Homo sapiens: one gene and its partners. The protein of the gene in region 2 purifies or fractionates together with the protein of the main gene of each other region. This does not show direct contact. Each region holds a gene or a part of one and is shown on either strand. Other genes may lie near its edges.

What was found.
Region 1: the proteins of LUC7L3 (region 2) and NFIA fractionate together in Homo sapiens (co-fractionation; one large-scale study listed by BioGRID). This does not show direct contact.
Region 3: the proteins of LUC7L3 (region 2) and PAIP1 fractionate together in Homo sapiens (co-fractionation; one large-scale study listed by BioGRID). This does not show direct contact.
Region 4: the proteins of LUC7L3 (region 2) and SMU1 fractionate together in Homo sapiens (co-fractionation; one large-scale study listed by BioGRID). This does not show direct contact.

Annotation. Positions count from the first base shown.
Region 1 is NC_000001.11:61,459,925-61,463,288, reverse strand, and holds the end of NFIA (nuclear factor 1 A-type), read right to left. Parts: 3' UTR 501-3,364; downstream 1-500.
Region 2 is NC_000017.11:50,722,603-50,726,102, forward strand, and holds part of LUC7L3 (luc7-like protein 3), read left to right. Parts: intron 1-3,500. UniProt on the Homo sapiens protein: Binds cAMP regulatory element DNA sequence. May play a role in RNA splicing.
Region 3 is NC_000005.10:43,536,578-43,540,077, reverse strand, and holds part of PAIP1 (polyadenylate-binding protein-interacting protein 1), read left to right. Parts: intron 1-1,042; coding exon 1,043-1,154; intron 1,155-3,133; coding exon 3,134-3,259; intron 3,260-3,500. UniProt on the Homo sapiens protein: Acts as a coactivator in the regulation of translation initiation of poly(A)-containing mRNAs. Its stimulatory activity on translation is mediated via its action on PABPC1. Competes with PAIP2 for binding to PABPC1.
Region 4 is NC_000009.12:33,066,675-33,070,174, reverse strand, and holds part of SMU1 (WD40 repeat-containing protein SMU1), read left to right. Parts: intron 1-1,240; coding exon 1,241-1,351; intron 1,352-3,500. UniProt on the Homo sapiens protein: Involved in pre-mRNA splicing as a component of the spliceosome. Regulates alternative splicing of the HSPG2 pre-mRNA. Required for normal accumulation of IK.

The sequences.
Region 1 (3,364 bases), on a different chromosome or scaffold from region 2:
AGAGGTCTGGCCACTGGCCATGTGCTGTCCCCACCTTTGTGGTGACCACCTCCCTCAGAAAAGACCCAAATATCAGCTGTGTGGTGTCCCTCCTTGAGTGCCTAGGTTCTGGTAAGCCCACCTTTCCCTTCGGTTTCCCCAGCTCCAGGGGTAGTGGCTGTATCCTGCAGTTACTAATACCTAGGCAACTTTACAGCCCCTGTTGGAAAACCCATTGAATCTTATTCCTGATTCCCGATTGGGCCCCAACTGATACAATCTATACAGCACTCAGAACAATATCAGGCACACAGTAAACACTATGTGAGTGTCAAATCCTGTATTTGTCCAAGTAGGTGAAAAAAGTAACACTGCCCATCAGAACACAGCCAAGGATGCTATGTGCCTGACAAACCCCATGGTGCATAAAGACCATCTTCTGTGGGAGCCTCCAGTCCACACCCGTGACTGTCACTCAATCACCCAGGCATGCTGTAAAGCAAATGATGACACAGCTTCCATAGCATTAGCAATTTTTTATTTTTCCTTTTTTGTTGCATAGGAAATGCAGTACTTGCTTCCAGTAATTGTATTGTAATGTGAGAAGGTGGTAGCACTAATGGTTGAATACAAGAGTTAAACTAATCCACACCAGCTCAAAAAACCTGTGGAGATTTAGTTGAATAAGAATGGACGCCCACAGTGATTCTCAACCAATTACAAATTTTCACAGAACACAGTAAAACTAAAAGGGTAACTATGAGAGTCAATACAAGTATACTAGAGGCACAGGGGGCCCGGCTCATAAAAACAGATTTCAGACCAAGTTATTAACACGGGGGGTGTTTCGTTTCATAACAGATCTCTTACCATCACTGGAAGTGTTCCATCCCCTCCCCCTACAATTTGAAATGGAAAACAGAGGTATTCCGAGTGGACAGATTTCCATGTGTGGTGGGAAAAGTCCCCAGTGAATTTTGCTCTGGTGAGAGGGCAGGGCTAAGGGTGGGGCGGGGGATCAGGGATTTGCCTTTGAGAGTCTTCCTAAAGGACCTCCTAGAACCTGATAAAGCTCCTAGTCTAGGTCTAGTTAGTATCTCAGTGGCGAGGCTACCAAATGCCTTCGCAGTGCAGAGACGATGGTCTGAGACCAGGGAGAAGGCACCGAGCCGTTAGTTCTCTCAAGCCTCTGTCCCAGCGGAGCTAGCGGCCTTATGACCTTCGGTTGCAATGTCAAAAGAAAAAAAAACAAACAAAAAAAAAAGCCAAAAAAAAAAAAAAAAAACCCAAAAAGGCTAACTTACAGACTATTATCAAAAAATAAAAATTTAAAAAATAAGAACAACACAAATAAGTCAAAGGAAAAATAAAAGCTTTTTTCATTTTGAGAAGTTGAGTATAAAAACAGCAGGAAAAATGGCCCAATACATTGGACACTATTTGTCCTTGAAACCACTGCAGAGATACAAAAGTTCACATTGTATGACCTGGTGGGTGTCTTCCACCATGAAGGTGCTCTGGTTAGATTAGAGGTAGCACTTCCACTGTATGCTCTTGTGGTTCAGACACATTTTGGGAAAGTTTATTTTTCTGAATCAAATAGGCGAATGCATCTACATGTAAAACTCAGGATACCAGGCACACAGATGAGGTCCCACCCCCACACACTGTCTCCCTGTTCTCACGACCAGCTGTGGGTGGTCCCCCTTATCTTTCTAAGCATTTCCGCTATCTGCTCCCCACATACCATCCCCCTAATCTGGGAAAGGTAACTCTTTGGGGAATAAAAGGCAGATGGGTGCTGGTTTAGGGAAAAAAATGAGATGAAATTTATTTAATTTGGGAAGCAAGTAATTTCAAATTTAGACCAAAAAAAGTATATTAAAAAAATCCCGTGTTAATAGCAAACTTCTTTTTCTTATGAATCGGGCCCAAAGTTTGTACAGAGTTTTATTTTTGAAGAAAATATTGCAACTGTGCATGAAACTAAATAGCCATGTGATTTCTTACATTTTTTTTCTTATTTTTCCTTTTAATATGAGGAGGTCTGGTGTGAAGACAGATCAAGCATGGGTACCTGGCTTGAACATTGTCCATTAAGAAAATGTATCAGTCTCCGCATAGCATCAGTCAAGGGTCAAGGAAAATGCCCCTGACTTGCAAATGTTCTCAGAGTGTCTTCGCAGCACAGTTCTTGAAATTCAAATAGTCGTTTTGAGACAAAAATCTCGCCAGGTACTGATTTCTGAAATCAAACACCCATGCTTGTCCCCTAGGAAAAAGAAAACAAAAAACAAAAACAAAAACAAAACACGAGTAATACTGAATTTAAGTAAATGTATACCTCCAAAATACTGAAAACAGCCGAAATCAAGAAAAGACAGAATTTGCGTTCTCAGTGAAATACCTTTAAACCTAGCTGACAAGAACCAAGTCGGAAAAAAAGACTAACATAACTTTGAGTAATATTCATACAGTTCACTAAGCATTATGGAATCGCATGCATTAATATTGTACGGTTATTTTACATCACCTATACCAGAAGGTCCTGACTGACAGACAGCGAAGGCTACCGGTGTAGAAAAATCTTACTTCAGAAGAGCAATATAATACAGATTTCACAGGCACTACATTTTAATATATCAGGTATTATGCTGGTTTTCTTATAATTCTTTCTGTCCTAAAGCTGGCATTATAACAATGACCAAAAAGGCAAGGATTGAAGTAAACGGAAAGTAGATACCAAAGTTGATATAGTTTTTTTCTTCAGATAGATTAGTGCATAGTTCTCATGCAGATAAACACTGCTATGCATTTACACTGTTGGAAAGCAGAGTGAATTGAGCCCAAGTTGTCACATTTGTGTAAATCATTTTGTCAGCCTATAATAGCACCATGTAATGGATTTGCATTAAACATTAAATTGATTTCAAAATTGGTGACACAGTATTCACTACAGTTAAGTGCTATGGAATAGCTTCAATGTTACCTGCTATATATCAAAGCAATTTTCATCCCACTGCTTTTTTATTGGAAAAAATAAAAGGAAAACATACACGACGCTAATTAGACGAATGCACAGCCTTGGACGTGGAGAAGGCAGAGCGGGTTTACTGTCAAACAGTAAATACATGCATTGACTTCAAGACAGAATTGGCCTTGGAAGCCTTTTTGAATGAAAGCTGAGCCGGTGGGCAGTGCAGCTTTCTGAGACTGTCTTTGGACAGATCTCGAAGGGTGGGTTTTGAGGTGCCACTGAAGCTCTCCTTACATTACTATGGTGGTTGTGTTTTAGATTTGTTCTATGGAGGCCTGCTACCAGAAATAAAAAAGAAAAGAAAGAATGAAGACAAGAAAGAAAACAGAAGCAAACAAAAAGAGAGAG
Region 2 (3,500 bases):
ATTAATTTGGTAGTAGATTCTAATACTGTACTTTTTTCTCCTTTTCATGATGGGTAATAAGTGAGCAAGCAGCACTTGCGAAGCGCAGTTTCAAGTGAAGGATGCATCTGTGATGCAAAATCATCGACCATTTATTTGTAATGGTGTGTATGTAACCTTCACCAAGGTATTTTACTGGGGCTAGTGCTTTTACAGGCATTTCCAACTTTGTAGATTGCTACCTCTGGATCTGAGAAACTGCAGCTAAAGTGAAGTCGGCTTTAATACTGTTTCATGGATTCATTGGTACACCCTCCCACCGTGTTTATTTGTATTTTGCAATTGTTTGAGATTATTGTTTTGGTTTTTTGCACTAAGCAATTGCTTGGTTAATCCTAAACAACCACAGTGATGAGGAAAGCATGTGATTGTAACTAACTGCCTAGGGTGAGTACCTTTCAGTGAGGGTTTGATTTCAGTGTTAGCCAGAGAAGGCACTAGTAGCCATATTATTAGAAGATTGTAGTAAATTGTAAAGTCTGATCGGGAGTTTTGTTATTTTTTATGTAGCAAGACAGAAATTTTGTAGTTCAAATTGAGGTTTTTATATTCTAGATCTCAACCTGAAAATGAAATTACTTAATCATTAACACTGATTCTAATATCTGAAATGAGTTTTCTTCCATTTATCAAACTCAAGCCTACCCTTCCTTCCATGAAGGTTTAACATGAAGGTTTAATAATTTATGAAGGAAATTGAACTATGTTCTTTTCTAAAATCTTTGGAATGTTAGCAGATACTGTCATTGACACTGAAAAGTTGTTTAGAAAAGGAAAAATAGCTAAAGCTTCTGTCCACATTTTTTACTTGTATACTTTTTCTTTTTGCTTTAAAAATGTTCAGAATTTGGGAGCAAAAATTGAAAGCAAAAAACTAGTAATTATAATGCATGATGGCATCTATTAATATGTATTTTACTAGTTTTCATTCAGAGTCACCAAAATGTTCATAGTAACTTACTATGTTACTATGGAGTAAGATAGAAAAGCATTTTCTACCCTGCTCCCTGCCCCCCCCCCTTTTTTTTTTTGAGACAGAGTCTAGCTCTGTCACCCAGGCTGGAGTGTAGTGGCATGATCTTGGCTCACTGCAACCTCCACCTCCTGGCCTCAGCGTCCCGAGTAATTGGGATTGCAGGTGTGGGCCACCACGCCCGGCTAATTTTTGTATTTTTAGTCGACAGGGTTTTGCCATATTGGCCAGGCTGGTCTTGAACTCCTGACCTCAAGTGATCGGTCCGCCTCAGTCTCCCAAAGTGCTGAGGTTACAGGCGTGAGCCACTGCGCCCGGCTGGCATTTCCTACCTTACTCCATAGTAAAATAGTAAGTGTTGGCTTCTCAGAATTGCCAGCAGTCCATGTGTTATATGTGTATGTAATTGCTATTTGCTTTTCTTCCCAAAACATACAGAATTAGAGTGAATAGTATAATAAATTGAACTCCCCATGTACCCATGCCCAATTTAGCAATATTAGCACATAGTCAATATTATTTCCTCTGTATCCCTTCCATTATTTTGAAGCAATTCTGTTATTGTCAACCTTAAAGCGGTCATTGTATATCTGTAAAATACAAGGACTTTAAAAAAAAAACATAGCCGACCGGGCATGGTGGGTCACCTGTAATCTCAACATTGGGAGGCCAAGGCAGGCAGATCACTTGAGGCCAGGAGTTCGAGACCAGCCTGGCCAACATGGTGAAACCCTGTCTCTAATAAAAAATAAAAAAATTAGCTGGGCGTAGTGGTGCATTCCTGTAATCCCAGCTACTCTGGAGGTTGAGGCAGGAGGATCCTTTCAACCCAGGAGGCAGAGGTTGCAGTGAGCCGAGATGGTGCCACCACAGTCCAGCCTGGGCAACAGAGTGACACTCTGTCTCAAAAAAAAAATAGAATAAAATAACCACAATACCATAATCACTGAAAATTATAGTAAGGTATTTCGTAAATCTTTGGTTGCTTTAGGAAAATTGTGTGTGTGTGTGTGTGTGTGTGTGTGTGTGTGTCATTATATATGTTATTAGCCTTGATTTCCTCACAAAAGGAGAAGGTAGCTTAAGTTTGTAAATTTGACTTTTTTGCTAATACAGTTCTTCGTTTTATGAAATATTTTCTCTTTTTTTTTTTTTTTTTACCCCCGAGATGGAGTCTTGCTCTGTTGCCCAGGTTGGAGTGCAGTGGTGTGATCTCAGCTCACTGCAACCTCCACCTCCCGGGTTCAAGCGATTCTCCTGCCTCAGCCTCCAGAGTAGGTGGAATTACAGGTGCATGCCACCATGCCTGACTAATTTTTGTGTTGTTGTAGAGATGGGGTTTCACCATGTTTGCCGGGCTGGTCTTGAACTTTTGACAACAAGTGATCCTCCCTCGGCCTCCCAAAGTGCTGGGATTACAGGGGTGAGCCACCATGCCCAGCCTTTCTCTTCATTTCTTATAGTAAGTTAGGAAAATTGTTGTATTCATTTATCCAACAAAAATGTATTGCTCGGCTGGGAGCGGTGGCTCACGCCTGTAATCCTAGCACTTTGCGAGGCTGAGGCGGGTGGATCACCTGAGCTCAGGAGTTTGAGACCAGCCTGGCCAACATGGCGAAACCCTGTCTCTACTAAAAATACAAAAATTAGCCAGGTGTGGTGGCGCACGCCTGTAATCCCAGCTACTCGGGAGGCTGAGGAAGGAGAATCGCTTGAACCCGGGAGGTGGAGGTTGCAGTGAGCCGAGATCACGCCACTGCATTCCAGCCTGCGTGACAGGAGCAAGACTCCATTTCAAAAAAAAAATTAAAAGTATTGCTCTTAGGTAGATAACAGCAGGATAGTACAGATACAGCACTTGGTCCTAAAGAGCCATCATGTATTGGTGACAGTAAATGCACTTTTTTTTTCCAATGGGGATTATTCCAATTGAATGTAAACGCATTTCCATAACAGAATATGATAAATCCTACCATTGGGAAAAGTAAAATTGACCCTTGAACAACACGGGTTTGAGTTGAGTGTGTCCATTTATACGTGGAGTTTTTTCAATAAATATATTGGAACATTTTTTGGAGATTTGCAACAATTTGAAAAAACTTGAAGACGAATCACATAGCTTAGAAATATTTTTAAAATTTAAGAAAAGATAAGTACATCACAAATACATAAAATAGATGTATATACTAGTTTATCATTTTCCTACCACAAAATACATACGAATCATAAAAAGTTAAACTTTATAAAAACTTATGCACACAGTACATGGTGCCACTAGCAGTCCAGAGAAAGTAAAGCTTGAGTAATAACTGCATAAAATTAACTATAGTACATACTGTAATACTGTAATAATTTTGTAGCCACCTGTTGCTATTACAGTGAGCTCAAGTGTTGCCAGGCTCCACTTAAAATGCCCTATGACCTGTGACTCTTGATAATCTCTGCATGAGCAGTTGGTGTCTAAAGTAAATTGCATATCACAGTAAAA
Region 3 (3,500 bases), on a different chromosome or scaffold from region 2:
GAACAAGAGGTAATTTATTTTTTCTTTGTTAAAAATTGTTTACAAAGTCAACCTAAACTGGCTGCGTGGAAACCATTCAGTACCCATAGCTTTTCCCTTTGTCTTGAAAAGGAAAACTGTCAAAACCAGTTTTGTGAAGCAAGTTACTTTCCCAGAGTTTTCTCACCTTATCAATAAAGATTACAAATACTTAATAACAAAATGATAAACTTTTACAGTCCATTTAAAAAATCTATGTTAGTAACAATATCTGACACTGTAGTTCACTTATGAAGGCAGTGACAGGATTATTGTGCCTAGTTTAGTTACCTTGTAGGAACTATGACTGACAATAAGCTCCAAGAAGAGGATTTCTTCTTTTTCTCCTCTGTGTGAAGCAAATGGGTCAAGTCAGGGGCAAAGAGAGCAAGGAAAAATCAGTTATTTGAAGCTGTCAGTCTCATTGGAAATAGAAAACAAGTCCGGTGCTTTCTATATTGTGGTTTTAATGGGGGAATTTTTTCCTCACATTAGTACTTCTCTGATACGTATAATGGAAATTACAAGAATAATGGACTTAAAAACAATTCATTTTATTTTCAGTTGGAGGTTGTGTGTGTGTGTGTGTGTGTGTGTGTGTGTGTGTATTTAAAGATCCTTTTCAAAGTTGTAGTATTAAAAAAAAAATTACAGAGACAATTTGGGTAAAATCAGTGCTTTCTTAGTAAAAAACCTATAAGACAAGGTGAGGCTCTCTCTCCCCTCTTTGGGCTGCCAGTATGCTGTGAATCAGATTACACCTATGTTGCTTAAACATATTAAATTTGATAAAAATCGTTGAAAATAAAACTATCAGTTTTTTCAAACTGGGAGACTTAGTATGAAAAGATGGTGTATATTCTAGCCTCTTCAATAGTCAGGAACAGTTTCTTTATTGTAGAAAGAGCATTGGGACATTGTCCTTGCCTCTTGCTGTGGACAACCAAACTGACAAATGGTTATTTTGTTTGACTATTTAAAAAGCAAAGCAATGTGAGATTATAAAAGATATGTCTTTAATTAGATGTCGGACTGAATATGAAGTTAAAGATCAAGCTGCAAAAGGGGATGAAGTTACTCGAAAACGATTTCATGCATTTGTACTCTTTCTGGGAGAACTTTATCTTAACCTGGAGGTGAGAAGTTTTTCTTTTGTTAAGTACTAACAAGGCCTGAGAACATAAGTTGATCTCAATGAGGAATTTGTGTTCACATTGTACTTTTACAACATTAAGAGTGAAATGAAAGAGAGAGGAAAGAAAACATGTTTCGGCACCTGCTAGTGTCTGTGGTTTACTGGACCGTCTGTCCATAACATTTACTCATGGACAGAATGTTAGGAAATAATTACTGAGGTAAAAATCTGCGTACTTTTAGGAAGCTGTGGTTTACATGCAAATTTAAGTTCTTGAGATATCAACAGTGATACCTTTTTGAGTTCTTACATCTTATATATTAATACATTTAGTATGTTGACTTTCAGATGGTGGCTCAAAGCAGTTTACTCTGCAGAACTCTGAGTGAAAAGAGAGACTAGAGTCTCTCTAGGCTTTTCACTCTAATTCACCCAAATAGTTTTTTAAAAATATTTTTTTAATTGACAAAAATTATATCTTTATGGTACACAACACTTTGATATATGCATACATCGTAGAATGGCTAAATCAAGCTATTTAACATATGCATTACTTGACATACTTTTTTGTGTTAAGAACACTTAAAATTTTTAGCAGTTTTCATGTATACAATATATTGTTAACTATAGTCATCATGGTGTACAAGAGATCTCTTGAACTTATTCCCCCTAAATGAAATTCTGTGTCCTTTGACCAACATCTCCCCAATACCCCAACCCCTAAGAATAGTTCTTTTTTGTCCTATTTTATATATTAATCTTCCACATAAAAATGCATTTGTACAAAGTCTACAGCTAAACGTATTTATAAATTTGGGTGGTATACTTAAGTATATGCTTGTTAGTAGGCAATAGAAGTGCTGGATTCAGCACGGCATTATTACTGTGTAATAGATTTGCTTGATTTTTTTTTTTTTTTTTTTTTTTTGGGTGGGGACAGTCTCGCTCTGTCACCCAGGCTGGAGTGCAGTGACGTGATCTCGGCTCACTACAACCTCCGCCTCCCGGGTTCAAGCGATTCTCCTGCTTCAGCCTTCTGAGCAGCTGGGATTACAGGCACGTACCACTATGCCTGGCTAATGTTTATATTTTTAGCAGAGATGGGGTTTCACCATGTTGGCCACGCTGGTCTCAAACTCCTGACCTCAGGTGCTACCCGCCTCAGCCTCCCAGAGTGCTGGGATTACAGGCATGAGCCACCATGCCCAGCCTCTGCTTGATTTTTTAAATTAGTGAATATCAGATATAAGCTTATACCTTCTTACACCCTGATTTGAGAACTTAAGATCGTAAACGCCATAATATCAGAAACATCATAAGACAATGTGAATCTATCAAATGTGCATCTCAGTCATTGTATCTAAAAGGTCTATGTCCAGTCCAGAGCCTAACTTACTATGCCTTTTTACCACAGGTAGACTTAGTTTTTTGAAAAATCTTATGCCATGTTCTTTTTCAGTCTAATTTTTGTTTAAGCCAAAATATGGACAGCAATCTAAAATAAATACTGTTGAGCATTTTCTATATGGAGATAATGATGCTAGGTCAATGGGGGATGTAAAGATAAGGCTTAGTTCCTGCACCTAAAATTCTTCTACACAGTGATATAAGATACATATACCACTCTGATGCAAAATACCATATTTTAAAATATTTTAAAAGCAGAATAAAATGCTGTGTGTTCAAAAAAAAGTGGTAGTTGAACAAACTAAAGAAAGCTTTATGAAGTAGTAACATCAAAGTGGGCTTAAATTATGCTGACTCTGGTATTAAATTTTACCCATAGCTTACCAGTTTTATTAGAGGTCTTAGTTACATATAAAGTAATTCTAACAAATTCTGTGAAGATATCAGAGTGTGTTCCTGTGACTTTTGTGATTTAGCTAAAATGCTTATTTTGCCAACACCTTGTTAGTTCATTTATGTATCTGTATTATATTTTGGCATCATTCCTTTTGTTCTTTTTTTTGGTCCCGAAAGATCAAGGGAACAAATGGACAGGTTACAAGAGCAGATATTCTTCAGGTTGGTCTTCGAGAATTGCTGAATGCCCTGTTTTCTAATCCTATGGATGACAATTTAATTTGTGCAGTAAAATTGTTAAAGGTAGGTTTTTTTTTTTAATTTAACTAATTTACGTATTTACTTATGATTTAGAGGAAGGTTAGTCTATATAGTATACAGATGAATTCAAGATTTATCACTTTAAGGTAAATATTGACATTTTACTTTTTTCTCGAATATTTTGGAAAAGCGAGATATACTTATTGTTTAATATATGAAGCAAGTTCAGAAGTGAAAAATGGAAGTCCTTTACGCCATTTCCATTTGCAAATTCTGTCTTCTT
Region 4 (3,500 bases), on a different chromosome or scaffold from region 2:
TTGTTTGAGCTCCTTATATATTCTGGGTTTTGTTGTTGTTGTTGTTGTTGTTTTTGAGACAGAGCTCTGTTACCCAGGCTGGAGTGCAGTGGCGTGATCTCGGCTCACTGCAGCCTCCGCTTCCTGGGTCCAAGTAATTCTCGTGCCTCAGCCACCAAGTAGCTGGGATTACTGGTGTGTGCCACCACACTCAGCTAATTTTTGAGTTTTCAGTAGAGATGGGGTTTCGCCATGTTGGCCAGGTTGGTCTCGAAGTCCTGGCCTCAAGCAGTCCACCCGCCTCGGCCTCCCAAAGTGCTAGGATGACAGGCATGAGCCACCACACTTGGCCCTGTATTCTGGTTATTTATTTATTTGTTTATTTATTTTTCTGAGACAGAGTCTTGCTGTTGTCTCCCCGGCTGGAGTGCAATGGCACGATCTTAGCTCACTGCAACCTCCACCTCCCAGGTTCCAGGAATTCTCCTGCCTCAGCCTCCCGAGTAGCTGAGATTACAGGCACCCACCACTATGGCCTGGCTAGTTTTTCTATTTTTAGTAGCGACAGAGTTTCACCATGTTGGCCAGGCTGGTCACAAACTCCTGACCTCGGGTGATCTGCCAGCCTCAGCCCCCGAAAATGTTGGGATTACAGGCGTGAGCCACCCTGCCCAGCCATATTCTGGTTATTAATCCCTTGTCAGATGGGTAGTTTGCAAGTATTTTCTCAGGAGGAAGAAGAACTTAATAGGCACTGGATAATAGAATGTTAGAGTAAACCTACAAAATCTATGAGGATAAAGGAAAGGATTTTAGATTACCAGGACAGGATTTAACTTAGAGGTGGTGAAGCACTTCTGTGCTGGGAGCCATTTAAGAAATTACTAAAGAGTATAAAAGAATTCTTGGTTCTGCAAATTTTTCAAAAACTGGAAGAACAACTCTGGGTTTAATGTGGTTTACTTGGACTCTTTTCAGAAAAATAGCAGTGTGTCCTTTGGCCAGGAACTCAGTGAAAAAATAATAATAGTGTGGATTGGCTGACCTCAGTTTTCTCCCAACTCATACTTTTGAAATGCAAGCGGGCAGAATTGGGAAGTCATTTTCAAAAACTAAATTAGTTCAACTAATCCCTTCTTTAACTGGGTAATTTCTTTTCACATTTTCCTCTGTGTATGCTTCTGCTTGTTTGTTTTAAATAAGCACACTCATATCTTGTTGTTGCTTCTTGGAAATGATGCTACACCCTCTCCTTTTTCAGGCATACCCAGATGGAAGTAGCAAAGAAAAGAGAAGAGCAGCAATTGCCCAGGCCTTAGCTGGCGAAGTCAGTGTGGTGCCTCCATCTCGTCTCATGGCATTGCTGGGACAGGTAATTCAATTCCTGTAGAGGCCAGGTGTGGTGGCTCACACCTGTCATCCTTGCACTTTGGGAGGCTGAGGCAGGAGAATCACTTGAGCCTAGTAGTTGGAGACCAGCCTAAGCAACATTGTGAGACTCTGTCTCTACAAAAAGTAAAAAAATTAGCGGGTTATGGTGGGGTGTGCCTGTGGTCTCAGTTACTTGGGAGGCTGAGGTGGGACAATCACTGGAGCCCAGAAGATTGAGATGACAGCTATGATCATGCCATTATACTCCAGCTTGGGCAACAGAGTGAGACCCTGTCTCCAAAAATAAAAATAAATTTAAAAAGTGAACTCCTGGTACAATTTCCTAATTTCCTATGTATAAACTATGTCTTAGCTGAAGAAATTGTACACCCTAAGAATTGGGGACTACCTACAGAGTTGCTTATTCCAGTAACTGTGCTGTTCCACTCTCCCTCTTTCCTGGGAGAGGCAATATAGATTAGTGGTTAAGAACAAGCTCTGGAGTCAGTTAGAATTAGGGTTACCATAGAATTTATCATCCTGTCTGGAATATCGTTGAGAGTACAGTTGATCCCTATGCCAGAACACCAAGTGCAAATAGTAACTGTCCTGGAAAGATTGGAACAAATGCCCATCCTAGTTAGAATCCAGGCTTTCTCATTTACCAGCTATATAGTCTTGGCAAATTACTTAACTTTTCTGGTCCCATTTACTCGTCACAGTATTGAGAGTAAGGATTAAGAGAAATAATGTTCATAAACACTTTATACATTTCCTGGCACCTTGTAAATAGTAAATGGTAGCTGCTGGTGATGATTTTTTAAAAAATTACTAATAGTGTTGCCAGCATGGTCATTATTATAAAGCTACTTAGAGTAATAGATATATTATAAATAACAAAGGGCACAAGTGATTAATAGGGATGTTAATAACCTTTTTGCACTAAATCTGCATTTAGAAAAGGACCAAAAAGCTATTTGTTGCAGGCCTGCAGTGACTCTGAGATTCAAAAGTAAGCTGCTTTTTGGCCTGGCGTGGTGGCCCATGCCTGTAATCCCAGCACTTTGGGAGGCCAAGGTGGGTGGATCACCTGAGATCAGGGGCTCGAGATGAGCCTGGCCAACATGGTGAAACCCCGTCTCTACTAAAAATACAAAAATTAGCTGGGCGTGGTGGCAGGAACCTGTAATCTCAGCTACTCGGGAGGCTGAGGCAGGAGAATCACATGAACCCAGGAGGCAGAGGTTGCAGTGAGCCGAGATTGAGCCATTGCACTCCAGCCTGGGAGACAAGAGCGAGACTTCATCTCAAAAAAAAAAAAAAAAAAAGTAAGCTGCTTTTTGATTTCTTAATCAAACTAATAGCAGTGCATCGTTTAAGTAGTACTTCAGGGCTTACAGTGAAAAACAGTCCCATGTGCTTCCCTTCTCCACCTCTGATTCTTAACTTTCCTGACTTAGCTCCATAGCTGAATACCATGTTTATACTGTTATTACCTGATTTTTTTTTTTTTTTTTTTTTTTTTTTGGTCATTAGCAACTAACTTTCTTCAGCGAAAAATGATTTGTCTTATACCCACTCTCCTCAATACACACTTACTCTTCTTCTGGATTTTCAGTAGAGCTGTATCACAACTTTTGGTTCAATCTATATTCAATGTTTACATAGTTATTTTTATATAGCTATTGTTCACAGCTAAAAAATAATTACATGTAATTTCTTACATAAATTTTTATGATTTGCAATAATTATTGCTTATTTTTTCTTTTGCCTAGTTTTCTATGCACTTCTGCTAGTCCAGCCTGAGTATTTCTAGTAGAACCGTCAAAAGTCCTTTTTTTTCCGCTTGCTGATATCTTTCCTGAGGCCCTTCTCTTTTTGTTCCCATCAGGACTAGTTCTCTTGCATTGCTGCACAGTTACTGTACCAGGACTTCTCTCATCTTCATACTGGGAATTTTGGGTCTCTTATTTTTTTGGTAGGTCTTATTTATAGATTCCTCAGTTTTCTTTTTTTTTTTGAGACAGAGTCTCACTCTGTCGCCAGGCTGGAGTGCAGTGGCACGATCTTGGCTCACTGCAACCTCCGCCTTCTGGGTTCGAGCAATTCTCCTGCCTCAGCCTCCCGAGTAGCTGGGACCACAGGTGCCC